2 separate regions of the Homo sapiens genome follow, and region 2 is linked to region 1. Evidence: fine-mapped expression QTL. A gene starts in region 1. The other region holds a variant in brackets. All regions are shown on one strand. Distances are between the middles of the regions. Region 1 holds the start of FCER1G (Fc epsilon receptor Ig). Region 2 has its middle 20 kb from the start of SLAMF1.

The links.
Region 2: its variant is fine-mapped to the expression of FCER1G in monocytes (Schmiedel 2018, PIP 0.95).

Annotation. Positions count from the first base shown.
Region 1 is chr1:161,212,840-161,218,216 of GRCh38, forward strand. It overlaps FCER1G (Fc epsilon receptor Ig), which reads left to right and starts at 2,456. Exons shown (of 5, transcript NM_004106.2): 1 at 2,456-2,531; 2 at 5,147-5,238. The coding sequence starts at 2,483. It overlaps NDUFS2 (NADH:ubiquinone oxidoreductase core subunit S2), which reads left to right. Exons shown (of 14, transcript NM_001377299.1): 11 at 541-636; 12 at 810-893; 13 at 1,025-1,082; 14 at 1,317-1,556. The coding sequence ends at 1,354. RefSeq lists an enhancer at 4,377-5,363.
Region 2 is chr1:160,664,611-160,669,987 of GRCh38, forward strand. It overlaps the pseudogene SETP9. Among named protein-coding and RNA genes, the nearest start is that of SLAMF1, 20 kb to the left of the region's middle. RefSeq lists enhancers at 811-870, 884-1,445. The variant TC/T (reference allele first, on the strand shown) is at 2,530.

The DNA.
Region 1 (5,377 bases):
ACCACACCCAACCCAGTTTTCTTTTAATAGAGAATTTACTGTGTAGTAAGAGATTCGGGTTTTTTTTATTTTTTTATTTTTTTTGAGACGGTGTCACGCTCTTTCACCAGGCTGGAGTACAGTGGCATGATCTTGGCTCTCTGCAACCACTGTCTCCTGGGTTCAAGCGATTCTCCTGCCTTAGTCTCCCGAGTAGCTGGGATTACAGGCACCCACCACCACGCCCAGCTAATTTTTGTATTTTTAGTAGAGACGGGGTTTCACTCTGTTGGCCAGGCTGGTCTTGAACACCTGACCTCTTGATCTGCCCACCTCAGCCTCCCAAAGTGCTGGAATTACAAGCGTGAGTCACCGCACCCGGCCATATAAGAGATTCTTAATCTCCCATAGCTCTCCTGTTTTATTCTGTATCCTCTCTGCTTACTGACTGACATGTGGCTTTAGTCTCCCTGAGGGTAGAGATTATTTTCTGTGCTGGGGGAGGCCTAGGAGACAGAGTTTGGATATGGTTTATTGATGCTCCCTGTTTCCTCTCTTCAGACTTCCATGGAGTCACTGATTCATCACTTTAAGTTGTATACTGAGGGCTACCAAGTTCCTCCAGGAGCCACATATACTGCCATTGAGGCTCCCAAGGTAAGGAGAGGAGGGGAAGGAAAAGACCATATGTAGAGTAGGTAGCTAAAGATAGATGTTTAACAAATAGCTCATTCATCAATGAGAGAGAAAACAGAATGAATAGAGGTTTTGTTGGCAGAGAAAAATACTCTTCATGTTAATACAGACACCCAACCTTCTTCCTTGAACAGGGAGAGTTTGGGGTGTACCTGGTGTCTGATGGCAGCAGCCGCCCTTATCGATGCAAGATCAAGGCTCCTGGTTTTGCCCATCTGGTAAGAATCAATCCCAGTAACTATAACTCCAATGAATTAAACCTGACCTTGGTTGAGGTTTTTATGAACTCTTCTTTCTCCTCCCACCTTGCAAGTCTTAACTAACATTGTTGCCATCTCAATCTCCCTAGGCTGGTTTGGACAAGATGTCTAAGGGACACATGTTGGCAGATGTCGTTGCCATCATAGGTACGAGGCCTATTGTGTAGTAGAGGTATCCTAGACAAAGGAGTTCGGGACGCCCACTGGGGACAGAAGGAGAACACTTCCTGTTCACCATAGGCCATGGCATGGACTCGGGTCCTCAATCTTTTGAGCACAGTAATGGGTTCTGGATCTTGGGTAACACCACTTTTTTTGTTTGTTTTGCCTCACAACAGGAAGATAAGTAACATCACTTTTTTCCTCCATCCTCTCACCTAGGTACCCAAGATATTGTATTTGGAGAAGTAGATCGGTGAGCAGGGGAGCAGCGTTTGATCCCCCCTGCCTATCAGCTTCTTCTGTGGAGCCTGTTCCTCACTGGAAATTGGCCTCTGTGTGTGTGTGTGTGTGTGTGTGTGTGTGTATGTTCATGTACACTTGGCTGTCAGGCTTTCTGTGCATGTACTAAAAAAGGAGAAATTATAATAAATTAGCCGTCTTGCGGCCCCTAGGCCTAAACTTCTGGTATCTTAGTGTCTCAGTATCTTAGTGTCCTTCACTCGGACTGTAAACCTAAGAATGTTCATTAACCCTCCATTCCTGTTAGATTCAGTCAGGTCTTAGCAATTTTTCCTGCTCGTCTCCACCCCCTTCTCTGACTCTTGTCCTTTCCACTTCTCTATTCCCCATTTCCTCTTTCGCCTCAGTTCCCTCCTTGCCCAAACCTTCTCAGTGCCCACATAACTTGGTAAACCACTCAAATCAAGACCTGGGGTAAAGTTGGGAGGGAAAGGGCTATAGTGGGGTCTGAGGGAATGTTGACGGGCAGTTTCACACAGATAAATCTCTGAACCAGCCGGGCGCAGTGCCTCACGCCTGTAATCCCAGCACTTTGGGAGGCCGAGGCGGATGGATCACCTGAGATCAGGAGTTCAAGACCAGCCTGATCAACATGGAGAAACCCCATCTCTACTAAAAATACAAAATTAGCCGGGCGTGGTGGTGCATGCCTGTAATGCCAGCTACTCGGGAGGCTGAGAGAATCGCTTGAACCTGGGAGGCGGAGGTTGCGGTGAGCCGAGATGGCGCCATTGCACTCCAGCCTGGGCAACAAAGCAAGAGTCCGTCTCAAAAAAAAAAAAAAAAAAAAAAATCTGAACCAGGTGGAGTGGAAAATGGCAGATGTAGACAGCCTTTCCTGAGCGTGAAAGTCTCCTCATTCTGTGGGTTAGGAGTTGGTCATTGAAGGGCTGACGCTTAAGAGCCCAGATCTCCCAACTCCCTTAGTTGGCCCTTCCGGGAGCCGCCCGGTCTCTTGTGCAGGAAGGGGAAGGGGCCAAAGCATGGGGGAAGGCGTGGCAGGAAGAGGGGGACTCTGTGGTCAGGGAACTGCTCGCTGAGCACAGCTGCACAGTGCTGTCAGAACGGCCGATCTCCAGCCCAAGATGATTCCAGCAGTGGTCTTGCTCTTACTCCTTTTGGTTGAACAAGCAGGTAAGAGGGTTTGGTGAGGGATAGCGTGAGCTGGCTCCAGGGTGGAAGTCCAGAGCTTGGGTCTGAGGGCCAAGTCAAACACAGGTGAAGGAAGGCTGACAGTGGGTAGGTGGGCATAGGGAGACCCTGAGGCTAGTCCTCTCCAGCCCCGACCCAGGGCACTAGACTCATAGTTCCCTCCTTTCTTGTTGCCTTCTTACTTCATTCCAGACTTTTCTCCGTATTATTATTATTATTTTGGAGATGGAGTCTTGCTCTGTCACCCAGGCTGGAGTGCAGTGGCGCAATCTCTACTCACTGCAACCTCTGCCTCCTGGGTTCAAGCGATTCTCCTGCCTCAGGCTCCCGAGTAGCTGGGACTACAGGTGCCCGCCACCACGCCCGGCTAAGTTAAGTATTTTTGGTAGAAACCGGGTTTCGTCATGTTGACCAGGGTAGTCTTGAACTCCTGACTCAAGTGATCCACCCACCTCGACCTCCCAAAGTGCTGGGATTACTGGTGTGAGCCACTGCACCCAGCTATTATTATTATTAAAAAAAGACAGGGTCTTACTATGTTGGCCACATCGGTCTTGAACTCCTGGCCTCAAGCAATTCTCCCACCTCGGCCTCCCAAAGTGCTACTGTGCCTGGCTGACTTTTCTCTTTTCAGGGTTGATAGAAAGTGGCAGGGGAAGGGTCTGGTTGTATGGCATGAAGAGCTGGTCTGGTGAAAAGCCTCATTTCTCATGATGAGCATTTCCCATGGGGTGCCTTTGGTCTTGTCTGCTGGGAGCTGATCTCTAGCTGGTTTAATATACAAAGCACCCTTGGTGCCTATAATTCCAGCTACTCAGAAGGCTGAGGCAGGAGAATCACTTGAACCCAGGAGGTGGAGGTTGCAGTGAGCCAAGATCGCACCACTGCACTCTAGCCTGGGGGACAGAGTGAGACTCCGTCTCAAAAAAAAAAAAAAGATTTTACATATATATCTCTATCTATCTATCTATATACACACACACACACATACACACACACACACACACACACACACACACACACATATATATATATATATAGAGAGAGAGAGAGAGAGAGAGATAACCCTTTAGGAAGGTAGGACTCTGTTCTTGTGCTTGGGAGTAAGGCAAGGATATAGCCAAGACAAACAGACGGGATTGCTGTTTCTATGGGTCATTGTTAATGCTCCATTCTGTCAGCAGTTGATAATGAGGGTGGGCAGCATGAGATCCCCAGTTCCAGAGACCTGAGCGTCAGCTGAGAAATAGAGGCAGAAATGGGAAGGTCTCTGAAGCTCTACAGCTCCAGCCACTATCTAAGAATTCTCACTCCTCGTTCACTCTGTGTTGTCTGTGCTGGATTGGTGTGTGTGTGTTGGTGGCAGCTGGGTGTTGGGGAGGAGGAGGTCAGTAAACTTCAGGGAAACTGTGGAAATTGAAAGAGAATGACTGGGGAGGAATTCCAGCAGCCTAGCTGAGAAGGTGGGAGCAAGTATTAAGTTAGCCACTGGTCTGCTGCCGTGGGATGAGGAGGGAGGAGGCCCGCTGAGGCACAAAGGAAAGCATGGGCTTTAGAGGCAGAAAACCTGCATTTGAGTTCCAGCTCTGTCACTTAACTCTGTGGCTCTGAGTGAGTTACTTAGCTTTTCCGAGCCTTGGTTTCGTCACCCATAAAATGGCGATGATGATGTTTCCCTCACAGGGTAGTTTTAAGATTTGTGCAATATCGTGTGTGTGAAAGAGTGTTGCAGAATAAAAAGTACTTGACCGATGTCAGCAATTGACTGACGTTAGTCACATGTTCCCTACTGGTCCTCTGATACGGGGTGAGAGCAGTCTCTGGAGCCCAGACTTGATTTGATTTTTTAAATTGCACAAAACTTCCCCTCTCAGAGACCCAGAGAGTGAGTAATAGGGCAGAGTAACAGGAGCTGGAATCCATATAGCTGTGGTCATTCCCCCAGCCTTGTGTTCAGGGCCAAAGGTATCTGTAAGGTCTGGGAAAAACAGACACACTTTTTTTTTTTTTTTTTTTTTTTACATATTTAAGTGTCTTGTGGTGGGACAGAAAGCAACAAGGCTGAGGCTAGGAGATGACCAATGATAGAGTAATTGCCTTCTCTCCCTTCCCCAGCTCACATCCTTCCTGTCCAGCCCTCAGCCACAGGTCACAGGACTTAGTAGAGACACTTCTGTGGTTTCTTCACTGAAATTTGCCACTACCTCTCCCTCCCACTACCCATCTTGGCTGAGGTTTTGGTTTCAGTCCAGTGGACTCAGATGGGTCCCTTGAGGTGGATAAAGTGCTCAATGGTGCCTGAAGAACCCACAGTGCTAAAAAGAAAAGGTTGGGGGCTGAGGGGGAAGGCCTCAATTATTAGTCCGTGTGAGTCCCATTTCAATAGAACCCTCAAGCTTCCTATCCTAGCCTGACCCTATGGTGTGGGAGGAGGGAAAGGTAAGGGCAGTGGAAGGCCAGAGAGAAACAGAATTTCTTCCCTTAGACGGCTCCCCTCCAGGCCCTGTCCTACCTCCCAGAGCCCCTTCCCTTCTCTCCTCTGAGTACCAGATCCTCCCTGATACCCCCGACCCCATGGGCATCCTCTATCCCCTCAGCGGCCCTGGGAGAGCCTCAGCTCTGCTATATCCTGGATGCCATCCTGTTTCTGTATGGAATTGTCCTCACCCTCCTCTACTGTCGACTGAAGGTAGCGCTGGGCAGGGTGGGGTAAGGGCTGGAAGGGGAAGTGGGAGGAGGGCAGCAGCAAGGATTCGAAGAGAAGGAATAAAAGGGGATCCTCCACAAAGTTTGGAGGGAAGGGGGATGGGCCATTAACTTACCCTTTA
Region 2 (5,377 bases), 550 kb before region 1:
TAACCAGAAACCAAATCTCTTGGGTTTAGGTCAATCCACCCATATCCTGATTGAGTTTCATTATGCTCTATTTACCTTCATGGTTCCCCAATCTAACAATGCCTGGCATACAGCAAGTGCTAAAAATGTTTGTGGAATGAATATACTGATTGTGGCCTTTTTTGGTGGGGGTAGAACTGGCCCCACACCTTCACATCATCACTGGAATTATGCCTCAGAAGCATCTTGGAAGTCAGCAGACCTAGGGAAGTCCTACTTAGCCATGAAATTTGCATTTCCCCAGGTACCTCCCAACCCCTCTCCACTTCCTCTGAGAGCAAAACCTCCGTTGTTCATGTCACACCCATGGGCAGCCTTTGTGCTCAGTACACAGACCTGATTGAGAAGATTGATAAAAGCAAAATAGAAAGAAGCCGTGATCTGGGTCATATGAGTTATACAACCATTTCCCTCTTATTTTACACTTGGGGAAACTTAAGCTAAGAGATCTTGTCTTAATTCATTAAAATTAGAGTTGCCAGCCCAGAAGAGAGGAAGGAGAAGTTTGGGACAGAGGAAGGCAACTAATACTTATTGAGCACTTACTGTATGGCAGACTTTATGTGGAATGATTTATTGAGGTTATCTCATTTAATCCTGATTTTAAAAATCATCCACATACGGAAACCGAGGTTTAGAAAGTTTACTTTTCCTGAGGTTCAGAAGCTGGTAAATGACGGTTCTGGAACTCAAACTCAAGGCTGTCTGGCTCCAAAGGTCATGCTCCTTCCCCTATACCACACAACCTCCCAGAAGCTTGAAATGTGGTTCTGGGTACTAGGTATAAGCTTGAAGACCAACCAAACATGCTCATTCCAGTGCTCTCTCTAGGAGCCAACAAGCCCTCCAACATTGCCCCCCTAGAAGGTCCTGCAAAATTGAGTTGTCTAGGGTTTGACAGAGTCCAGAAGACATTTTCGAACATAAGAAGGGCAATGGGTCAAGCCCCAGGGAGTACCCAGTAGTATCAACAAAGAAAGGAGAATGTGTATTTGACTTCCAGCCTCAGCCCTGCTGGTAACTTGCCAGACGGCCTTGGCCTGGCCACTTCCTTCCTGTCCTCCACCAAGATTACAGAAAATTAGGAAATGCAAATTTTATGGGCTTCCCTGCTGACGATTTCTAAGTCTTCTTTGTAGTAATCATTCCTATCACAAAGAGGGTGGGAAACGGTGATTATGGACCAGGGAGAGAGTCCTATTCCTAAGAAGTGGTTCTTGGACTTTGGAGAGGCAACAATTGGTTTGAGTCTTAACAAATGAGTGGGAGTTTGTTAGGTCAACGAGGAGTGGGAGGGGATTCCAGGAAGTGTAAAAGCTTGAGCAAAGGCATTGAGTAAATTCGGGGAACTGCTAGCAGTTCAGGAAGGTTGCAGCATTCAGTGCAAAGGAGGGGCCAAACTAGAAATTGGACAGGAGAAAATCACAGAAACCAAGCCACATAAGGATCAGTAGAACCCTGTAGGCTCTCCAACGAGCCTATCCTTGAAGGATTTAAGCATGAAAATGTTGTCATTATTAAACCTAGGCTTTAAAGAGGTCCTTCTGCTCTGTGTTGCTGTCCTCTGCCAGAGATAGCAAGACTGACAGAGGCTGTGCTCCTGTAGCCTGGGAGCCAGAATGGAGAGACACATTGGGCAGAGCCCGGCAGAGTCACAGGAACTTGTAGTCCCCATCTGTTTATTATTCATGGAAGCTTTCTCCTTTTCTTGATTGGATCAACAGAAAAATAAACTGTCGTCTTTGGCAGATGATTCAATGGGAATTCAAGGGTTTCAATGGGAATTCAAGGTTGAAAATGATAATGTACTCTGAGAACTCACAGGTCTATAAAAGGAGAGGCCTATACAAGGAAAGAAGAGGATGTGGTAAATGCAGAACAGACCCTCAGCATCTTGAAGGACCATCAAGGGGAAATAAGTATTGCAGACCTTTCATTAATCTGTGTAGTTAACTTTTTATTTGAAAATAATGTCAAAAGAGCTGCAAGAAAAAATTATTATTAATAATAGTACAAAGAACACGCTTATAAATATCCTGCAGGGAGGGGTCTACAAGTTGGCTGTGACTGTGAATACCTCTCTGTAATGTTTTGCCCATTTTGCTTTAATATTAGCTAGTTCTCTCTCTCTCTCTCTTTCTGTCTCTATTTGAACTATTATAGGGTAGGTTGCATATGGCATGGCTCTTTATCTTAAATACATCAGTGTAAAGAATTAGGATAATTTCTGACACAACTACAATATAGTTATCACTTAAGTAAATTTTACATTGATAACAATATTCTTGTCTAACCTACTGTTTGCATTTCAATTTTGTCGGTTGACCCTTTGTAACCATAATTTTCCCTCCAGGTCAGGATCCAGTCCAGTATTAGGTATTGCATTTAGTTGTTGTATCTCTTTAGTACCCTTCAACTGTAACATTTCCACAGCTATATCTTCTCCTTTATGACATGGATATATTTGAAGAATGCAGTCTTCCCACCCTT[TC/T]CCTTTTTTTTTTTTTTTCTTGAGGTGGAGTCTTGCTCTGTCACCCAGGCTGGAGTGCAGTGGTACAATCTCGGCTCACTGCAATCTCCACCTCCCGGGTTCAAACGATTCTTCTGCCTCAGCCTCCTGAGTAGCTGGCATGCACCACCACACCCAGCTAATTTTTTTGTATTTGTATTTTTAGTAGAGATGGGGTTTCACCATGTTGGTCAGGCTGGTCTCAAACTCCTGACCTCATGATCCGCCTGCCTCAGCCTCCCAAAGTCCTGGGATTACAGCCTCTCTTTTTTAATAGCAAATTCCTCACTTGGGGTTTTTTGGTATTTCCTTATGATTAGATTCACATTATGCATTCCCAGACTAGGTACTACACAAGTGACATTGTACCCTCAAGGTATCACATCTAGAGACCCTTGATGTCTTCTCATCGATAATGTTAATTTTAATCACCTGGCCAATATATTGCCAACAGATTGCCAGATTTCTCTATTGTATAGTTATCTTTTTTGATTTTAACTAATAACTATGTGTTGGCATACAGTGGAAGGCCATGCAGACATCTTACTCCTCATCAAAATTTCCTCTGAGATTTAGCATCCATTGATAATTTTTGCCTGAGCCTGTCTTAATTGTGATAGTTACAAAATAATAACTTTCTTCACTTTAGCACCTCACTCCATATTTGGCATTCTATTGCAAGCAAGAACCCTCCCTTTATCTATCTGATCTATCGCATCTGTCTTCTCTAGTCAGTTTTGGTAGTCTGTGTGATTCTTGAAATTTTTCCATTTCGTCTAATTTATTTCCATACAATTGTTCATACTATCCCCCTTGTAATCATTTTTATTCCTTTAAAGTCAATAGTAATATCCCCTTTTAATTCTTGATTTTGGTCCTTTGAGTCTTCTCCGTTTTTCATTTTATCAGTCTACCTAAACATTTGTCAGTTTTGCTGATCTTTTCAAATAACCAAACTTTAAATTTGTTTTTCTCTTATTTTTGTATTCTCTCCTTCATTTCTTTCCATTTTTATCTTTATTATTTTCTCCCTCTTGCTTGCTTTGAGCTTAGTTTATTCTTCTTTTTATAGTTTCTTAATGAACTTAGTTCTTCTTTTTATAGTTTATTTTCTTTCTTTCTTTCTTTCTTTCTTTCAAGACAGGGTCTCACTGTGTCACTCAGGCTGGAGTACAGTGGCACAATCACAGCTCACTGCAGCCTTGATCTCCTAGGTTCAAGCAATCCTCCTACCTCAGCCACCAAAGTAGCTGGGACTACAGGCATGAGCCACCACACCTGGCTAATTTTTTAAATTTTTTGGTAGAAACAAGGTCTCACTACGTTGCTGGTCTTGAACTCTTGAGGTCAAGTGATCCTCCTGCCTCAGCTTCTCAAAGTGTTAGGGTTACAAGAATGACCCACTAATCCCAGCCTATAGTTTCTTAAGGTAGGAGGTTAGATTATTGATTTGAGATCTTTCTGTTTTAATTTAGGCATTTACAGCTATAAAAGTTTCTCTAAGCATTGATTTCCTGCATCTCATAAGTTTTTGATATGTAATATTTTTAGTTTTATTCATCTCAAAGTATTTTGTAATTTCCCCTATGATTTATTCTTTGACCCATTGTTTTAGAAGTATGTAGCTTGATTTAGAAGTATGTAGCTTGATGAATTTTCCAAATATCCTTCTGTGATTGATCTATAATTTCACTCCATTGTGGTTAAAAACATACTTTTGACATTTCTGTAATTTTAGTCATTTCATATTTGTTGAGACTTGTTTTATAGCCCAACATATAGTCTATCTTGGAGAATGTTCCATGTGCATTTGAGAACAACAAACACATATTCTGCTGTTGTTGGGTAAAGTGTCCTATAGACTTTGGTTAAGTTTAGTTGGTTTATAATGTTGTTTAAGTCTTCTATTTCCTTGTTGATTTTATGTATAGTTGTTCAATCCATTATTGAAAATGGGATATTGAATTCTCCAGTTATTATTGTTGAATTGTCTATTTATCCCTTCAATTCAGTAAGTTTTTGCTTCATGTATTTTGGGGCTCTGTGCATATATATTAATAATTGTTATATCTTCTTGATGCATTAACTCTTATTATTATAAAATGTCCTTCTTTGTCTTTACAACAATTTTTGTCTTAAATCATATTTTGACTGATCTCAGTTTCTAAACCCAGCTCTCTTTTGGTTATTGCTTCCATAACATAATATACCTTTTTCCACCTTTTACTTTCAACCTATAGGTGTATTTGAATCTAAACTGTGTCCTTTGTACACAACATATAGTGGACCCATTTTTTTTAGTCCACTCTAATAACCTCTGCCTTTTATTTGTAATGTTTAATCCATTTATATTTAATGTAATTTCTGATATGGTAGGATTTATGTTTGCCATTTTCCTATTAGTTTTCTATAGGTTTTTTGTGTGTGTGTGTTCTTCTCTTTCTTTATTAGTGCCCTCTTTTGTATTAAATATATTTTTTCTACTGTACACTTAAGTTCCCTTGTCATTTTTTTTTTTTTACTGTATTTATTTTCTTCATAGTTGGTTTGGAGGTTACAATGATCTTAATTGCAATAATATAATACTTTGTTCTCACACAGCTTTTTCTCCTGCCCACATTTTTTGCTGTTATTGTCATACAAATTACATCTTTATACATGTGTGTCATTAACACAGATTTATAATTATTGTTCTATAAAATTGTCTTTTAAATCAGATAAGAGAAAAAAATTACAAACAAAAACTACACTTATATTGTCTTTTATATACATTTTATGTATCATATGCCAGGGCAGCATGCGCGAGCAAGCGCTGGGAGAGCGAGCGAA